Linked DNA regions of Homo sapiens. The protein of the gene in region 1 purifies or fractionates together with the protein of each later gene. This does not show direct contact. Each region holds a gene or a part of one and is shown in the gene's direction. Other genes may lie near its edges.

Evidence for each region.
Region 2: the proteins of KIF13A (region 1) and SMARCAD1 fractionate together in Homo sapiens (co-fractionation; one large-scale study listed by BioGRID). This does not show direct contact.

What each region holds. Positions count from the first base shown.
Region 1 is NC_000006.12:17,980,831-17,984,655, reverse strand, and holds part of KIF13A (kinesin-like protein KIF13A), read left to right. Parts: intron 1-3,825. UniProt on the Homo sapiens protein: Plus end-directed microtubule-dependent motor protein involved in intracellular transport and regulating various processes such as mannose-6-phosphate receptor (M6PR) transport to the plasma membrane, endosomal sorting during melanosome biogenesis and cytokinesis.
Region 2 is NC_000004.12:94,277,188-94,281,012, forward strand, and holds part of SMARCAD1 (SWI/SNF-related matrix-associated actin-dependent regulator of chromatin subfamily A containing DEAD/H box 1), read left to right. Parts: intron 1-1,234; coding exon 1,235-1,330; intron 1,331-1,428; coding exon 1,429-1,546; exon of another isoform or gene 1,547-1,735; coding exon of another isoform or gene 1,736-1,741; coding exon 1,742-1,863; intron 1,864-3,404; coding exon 3,405-3,593; intron 3,594-3,825. UniProt on the Homo sapiens protein: DNA helicase that possesses intrinsic ATP-dependent nucleosome-remodeling activity and is both required for DNA repair and heterochromatin organization.

The sequences.
Region 1 (3,825 bases):
GTGAAAGTTTTCAGTCTTACCAGTAAAAACAAGTGAGAATGCATTGACGTCCAGGGAAAAAAAAAAAAAACAGATGGGGTCAGCTTTCATTGTTTCCCCATTTTACAAAACCAAAGCCAAGACTGTGTAGCTAGGACTAAAAGATCAGAGGATCTCTGAGGTTAAAGATGTTTGTTTTGTTGCTGAAATTCTAGTATTGTAATACATTGCATAGGTCCAGGTTAGTAGTTGATATGTATACTGATCACCATTCTGAAACATTAAGACACATGGATTTGTTTCTTAAAATACCATTGCATTGCTCTCCAGGAGACATTTATGAAGTTCAGATCATTTCAGTACCATGCTCAGCATAGGGGATTCAAAGATACTTGTGGATCCAGTACCTACACCAGAGTCACTCACCTTGGAGAGAAGGAGGAGAGAGAGGAAAAAGTAGTTAAAATACAACGTGGTAAATTACGCTGGTGTATACTTTTGCCATTTCATGAACCACATAATTTCAAAATTCTCTGTTTCCTCTTTCTCTCCCTGGAGGCTGTGAACTGCTTGAAGGCAGGTAGGTACCTTATCCTACTTCTCTTTGTACCTCATGCTCCTGCATACTGGCACTTAGCAAGGGCTTAGCAAATGTGATGGGAGCATTGAGGAGGGGCTGTGGATGCTACCCAAGGTCCTGTCAACTTGCCAAGACAGGTGGTGTTTGTGTGGTCTTATGGATGCTGAGAGCATAGGTTCACTTTTGCAAGACGAGGAGAGAGTCCTTTGCCAATGAAAGTGAAAGCATACCTGCAACACATTGCTTCTGGGTGCTTGTATGTGTGTGAGGTGAGGGGGTGGAGTACCATTCAGAAGCAAGGTAGTTCTGGGCTGGGTGAGGTAGCTCACACCTGTAATCCCAGCACTTTGGGAGGCTAGGGTGGGCGGATCTCTTGAGGCCAGGAGTTTGAGACCACCCTGGCCAACACGATGAAACCCTGTCTCTCCTAAAAATATAAAAATTAGCCGAGTGGTACATACCTATAATCCCAGTTGCCTAGGAGCCTAAGGCAGGAGAATCGCCTGAGCCTTGGCGATGGAGGTTGCCGTGAGCTGAGATCGTGCTACTGCACTCTCGCCTGGGCAACGGAGTGAGACTGCATCTCAAAAAAAAAAAAAAAAGCAGCAGCAGCAAGACAGTTTTGGGGGTGGGGTGGGTGTGGGTGAAGGGATGGAGTGGGGTGAAGGGAGCAATGGAATGAGAATCCCTAACTTGCTAAAAAGGGTGACATACACAGTGAAATGTCTTCCTCTTCACCCCTGCTGTCATCCCTACTTTGCCCATCTCTTCACCTCTCGGAAAATGGGTAGCCACTGTCATTTAGTTCTCATGCCTTTTTTTCCAGATATATATGTGCATTTTTAATACAACTATATACACAAATAAGTATTTATATATTTTTTAAGAAATATCTTTGGTAGCTTTCTTTTTTTTTTTTTTTTTGAGATGGAGTCTCGCACTGTCACCTGGGCTGGAGTGCAGTGGCGTGATCTCGGCTCACTGCAACCTCCGCCTCCTGGGTTCAAGCGATTCTCCTGCCTCAGCCTCCCGAGTAGCTGGGATTACAGGCGGCCACCACCACGCCCAGCTAATTTTTTTGTGTATTTTTAGTAGAGACGGGGTTTCACTATGTTGGCCAGGCTGGTCTCAAACTCCTGACCTTGTAATCCGCCTGCCTCGGCCTCCCAAAGTGCTGGGATTACAGGCGTGAGCCACCACGCCTGGCCCCCTTTGGTATCTTTCAATATCAGCATATTAAGACTTACTCATTCTTTTTTACATTCAGTGTGAATGGTAGTGGTGGTTTTTAAAATATAGGTGGTTGGCTTACGGGTCTGATCCCCGTGACTTTTAGGAAGTGATGCTGTGCTGTGAAAAGAATATAGTGGAACTTGCTTTCTACAGAAGTTTTTGTTCTTAATTATTTTATGTAAGTGAATTGTAAGGTAAGACTCCAAAATAAAGTGCATATCTAACCTACTGTGTAAAAATAAAATGTTGGGCTAAATATGGGCTCTCGGTAGAAGAGCATGAAAGTTTTTAGCTTCCTGTTCATTTTTTCCATATGGCAGGATGAACAATACACCTTGCAAATCGTGTGAGGGAGGGTCAGTTGAAGAAAGCTTCCTCTTACTAAACTTTGTATGTATTTTTTAGTTTATTCACCAGCGGTATCCCTGTCTGAACATCTGAAATCTAAAATGCTCCAAATCCTGGGGGCCAGACACAGTGGCTCACATCTGTAATCCCAGCACTTTGGGAGGCCAAGGCAGGCAGATCACCTGAGGTCAGGAGTTCGAGACCAGCCTGGCCAACATGGTGAAACCCTGTCTCCACTAAAAAAATACAAAAGTTAGCCGAGTGTGGTGGTGCACACCTATAATCCCAGCTACTTAGGAGGCAGAGGCAGGAGAATCACTTGAACCCAGGAGGCCGAGGTTGCGGTGAGCTGAGATCGAGCCATTGCACTCTAGCCTGAGCAACAAGAGTGAAACTCTGTCTCAAAAAAAAAAAAGAATGCTCAGTTGGTAAGTATATAATGCATATATTCCAAATTCAAGAAAAATTCAAAATCCAAAACACTTCTGGTCCCAAGCATTTTAGATAAGGGCTATTCAGTCTGTAAATATTGCAAGTTTTTATTTCTAAGCTGGCTTCCTCCGCCATTCTGAAGGCTTCTAGGATGGTTCCTTGGCTCCTGTGTCTCTGTAGACCAGAAATTTAAATATTAGTGAAAGTCATACATAATTAGAAAGATAAGTCACCTAAGAAGCAGTAATACTCCACATTATAAAATCACCTGTGGGACTTTGAATTCTCTTTTCTGTGTTGTTATTCTTCTCTCTGCCCATATTACAGAGTTAATTGTAAGAAAGCAAAGAATAAGGCCGGACACAGTGACTCAGTGACTCACACCTGTAATCCCAGCACTTTGGGAGCCTGAGGCAGGCAGATCACGAGGTCAGGAGATCGATATCATCCTGGCCAACATTGTGAAACCCCATATCTACTAAAATACAAAAAATTAGCCTGGCGTGGTGGTGTGTGACTATAGTCCCAGCTACTCGGGAGGCTGAGGCAGGGGAATGCTTGAACCCGGGAGGCGTAGGTGGCAGTGAGCCGAGATCATGTCACTGCACTCCAGCCTGGCGACAGAGCGAGACTCTGTCTCAAAAAAAAAAAAAAAAAGAAAAAAGAAAAACAAAACTAAAAGTAATTATAATGCATTGTAGTTTAGAGTGGTTATATTATTTTGTTGACAGTCAACAGTTAAAAATACATTTTACATTATGAACCTGTTTATGTGGATATGTATATTTCAAAGGTTATGAAAAAATACTCTTAACTGTATGCAATGTCTTTTATTTTCTATCCCCTTCTGTTAGAATTCATTAAAAAAATAATGGCTATGTCTTACCGAATTATTTCTCAACCCACTAATGAGTCATAAACTTATATTTTGAAAAACATAGGTTTAGTTAGTAAGAGCTTGGGCTCTGGGTTTTTGTTTTTTTCTTAACCTGTATACACAGTTTAAATTGTGAAGTGGTCATATAATTTATAAAGGCTGTGTTTAAAAAAAAAAAAAAAGTCCCCCTCTTCATTTCTTTCCCCAGAGGCAACCACTTTTAGTGGTTTTAATTCATTCTTTTGGAATTTCCCACCGTATTTCTGAATAACATGCTGGTAATGCTTGGTTTTTATTTGCTCTCTTTGTTCTCTTTCTCTGCTTTATTCTCACCTCACCCCCAAATTCTTCCCACCTGCTCCCTATTTTCCCAATA
Region 2 (3,825 bases), on another chromosome or scaffold:
ATATGTTATTTGTGTTTTATCTGGGCCATTCTTCTGTTAGGTCTCTTTTGTTGTTTTCATAGTGCATATGCTCTATGAAGTAACTTTAAGTAGGTGATAACTCTATATTTGGATTGGTTTGGAAACCAGCCAAAATATAATGGGAAAGAAAATAGCAATTTCCCTAATCAATGGCCAGAAGTCTTGGTTAATATCCTAATTTTCTGAAGGATGACGATTTTAAATTGATGAAGAGCTCAGATATATAGTATGTGCGGAAAGTTTGATCATTACATCATCTGTATCAAAATTGGCTACGTAAATTAGTAACATTTCTTTATGGGTAAACTATAAAACTAGACAAAGCTAGAATATCCAGAAAATGCCTATGCTGAGAAATATATTCTGAAATAAAAGTTCATAAAACCAAAGTCACAACTAAAAGCGACAGTAAAGAAATCCTCTTCACAAGAAAAGTTTTGTTACTTCTTTATTGTTTAGGAAAAGTATAGTCTTCAAGAACTCCCAGTTTTTTCAATACCGCAGTGTTTACACTGATTCTTGGCTCTCTTCCACATCACTAATCTTTTGCAAGAATTTTCTGTGATACTCGTCCACTGCAAATTAACTGCCTTTTAAACATTTACTAATTTGAATTCCCTCCCACTTAATGTACAGTGTTTTAAATGGCCTAGCAGATTTTATGAACCATTTTCTATCTTCAGTTCATAATATATGGAGGACTCCTTCACATCCTAGAATAAAATTCTACTTCTTAATTCTCCAGAGTCACCAGTTCTGACTAAGCACTATTCCCCATTTTTAGACCAAGTGATTTGCATCAGTCTGCACTAGCTTCCTTTTGGGGCCATTTTCCACAAAGAAATAAAGGATTTTCTACCCCCCACGCTCCTCCTTACCCACACTTAGACACATTTTTCAATGAGAGTTATCTAGGTAATCGATACATGACTCATCAGTTGATGACTTCTGAACACCCATCTGGTACAGTTCAAATTGATTACTTCAGTAGAGAACATGATTACGTATCATAAAACTTCAAAATACATATGGAGCTTCAAGAAGTACATGGCAGCCCAGAATTCAGATGTGAAGTGCCATCTAGAATGAATCAAGTTTCTGCAGAAAATAACTCAGACTCTAATGAGGGAGATTTTTATGTTGTGTAATAATACTGTTATTGCAATAATTTAAGTGAATAATTCCTAAAAGGATATGTTTTTATTTTGCTCAGAAATCAGCAGATGAGCAAAGCATATATGAAAAGGAGAGAATAGCACATGCAAAACAAATTATAAAGCCATTTATTCTCAGAAGAGTAAAAGAAGAGGTAATGCATATCTACATGTTTTTTATTTTTATTGTTTTTAAAACTTAGGTTTTTCTCTTTACTAGAATGATTATCTTAAACTGTTTTTTCTGTCTCAGGTTCTCAAGCAGTTACCCCCCAAGAAAGATCGAATTGAGTTGTGTGCAATGTCGGAGAAGCAGGAGCAACTCTATTTGGGTCTTTTCAACAGATTGAAAAAATCTATCAATAACTTGGGTATAATCTGATTTTTACTCTTTTATGTGAAAAAGAATCTTGTACTGGGGATGCATTTTGTTTAGTCATATAATGGGATTTGTGCATTTTAAAAAATTATCTGGAATTTGAGGAAATAATTTTAAAACTTAGTTGATATATTTCAACAGTTATCCGCTTGGTTTTATTTTTTACTGTGTTCTCTTTGAGTCACAGAAAAAAACACAGAAATGTGCAATGTCATGATGCAGTTGAGGAAAATGGCCAATCATCCTTTATTACATCGCCAATATTACACAGCTGAAAAACTCAAGGAAATGTCTCAGCTTATGCTAAAGGTAAGGATTTCATATTATGTTAACACTAAGCTTTAATAAGAGGTTAAGTTGTTAGGCTATAAGATTGGTGAACCCAATGGGCATACTAAACCTTTAACTACATATTTAAGAAAAACTTTTTTTTTTCAGACCAGGTCTGGTTCTGTTGCCAAGGCAGGCAGTCTGGGCTCACTGCAACTTCTGCCTCCTAGGCTTAAGCCATCCTCCTGCGTTGGCCTGCTGAATAGCTGGGACTACAGGCACGCACCACCATGCCCGGCTAATTTTTTTGTACGGATGGGGTTTTGCCATGTTGCCCAGGCTGGTCTTGAACTCCTGAGCTCAAGCGATTCGCCCGCCTTGGCCTCCCAAAGTGCTGGAATTACAGGCATCAGTCACTGCACTGAAACACGAAAAACACATTTTAGACTAAGTTCAAAATGATCTGGGGGACATAAAAACAAAGAAGGACTGATAACCTACATTATAAGTCAGCAAACTATGGCCTTACGGCAGTGACTATTTTTATAAATAAGGTTTTACTATAACACAGTCATGCCTGTTTTTGTTTTCTGGGACTGCTTTCTCACTACAGGGGCAGAGTTGAGTACTTGCCTTACAGGTCATTTTGCCTACAAAGCCTAAAATATGATCTGGCCCTTTACAGGAACAGTTTGCTAACTCCTAGTCTAGACTTCCATAATGCACTTCTTTTTCATTTTATTTCTTTATAATTTTAGCAATTACTCTTTATTTTTGCCTCTTTCTCCTTTAACATTTTAACCTTATTTATCCTTACTGATCTTTGGTTGAAAGCAACCCATTTTCTTCCTTTTCTTTACTTTTTTTTTTGAGATAGACTTTTGCTCTTGTCGCCCAGGCTGGAGTGCGATGGCATGATCTCTGCTCACTGCACCCTCCGCCTCCCAGGTTCAAGTGATTGTCCTGCCTCAGCATCCTGAGTAGCTGGGATTACAGGCACCTACCACTACGCCCAGCTAATTTTTGTATTTTTAGTAGAGATGGGGTTTCACCACGTTGGCCAGGCTGGTCTCGAACTCCTGACCTTAGGTGATTTACCCACCTCGGCTTCCCAAAGTGCTGGGATTATAGGCGTGAGCCACTGCACCTGACCAACCCATTTCTTTTTAAATTTTTTTTTATTATTTTAAACTTATGGAGAATTTCAAACATTTATAAAAGTAGAATTGCATAATGAAACTGCCCATATGTTACTTCACCCCTTTGAAAGTTACCATTTGATAATAACACCACCCTTGTTTCATCTATACCCCAGACTTCTCCCCAGGGTTATTTTGAACCAAGTTCTAGATGTTATTTCATCTGTAAATATTTTAGTATGTTATCTCTCAAACAGTAAGGACTTCTCCCCCTTTATTATACCTAAAAGATTAATACTAATTTTCCTTGATAAGTCTGTTACACTAAAAGGTTCTATGATTTAGATATTTTATCAGGTATAAACAGTTTTATTAAACTTTTCTCATCATATTATTAATTATTTTTATTTTGAAGTATACTGTGTTTTGTTTTGTTTTAAGGAACCTACACATTGTGAGGCTAACCCTGACCTGATCTTTGAAGATATGGAAGTTATGACAGACTTCGAACTACATGTACTTTGTAAACAGTACCGACACATTAATAACTTTCAGTTAGACATGGACTTGATTTTAGATTCTGGAAAATTTCGAGTTTTAGGATGCATCTTGTCTGAATTGAAACAGAAGGTATTAAAAAAGAATGGCGTTTCTTTTGTATTTTCTCAATTACTTTAACTTCTTAAAGCAATTCTGGCACACTGACTTGCTTGAATTAGCCTATGTCTGTTCTGCATTCTTCCAGAACTTAGTGTTTTGAACATTTTCTTGACGTATTTTCTTGATTACCTCCTTTCCTCTGTTGAACCTCAGACAAAAACAATAGAAAGTTAGTAGACTGTATCTGTATTGATGTTTTAAA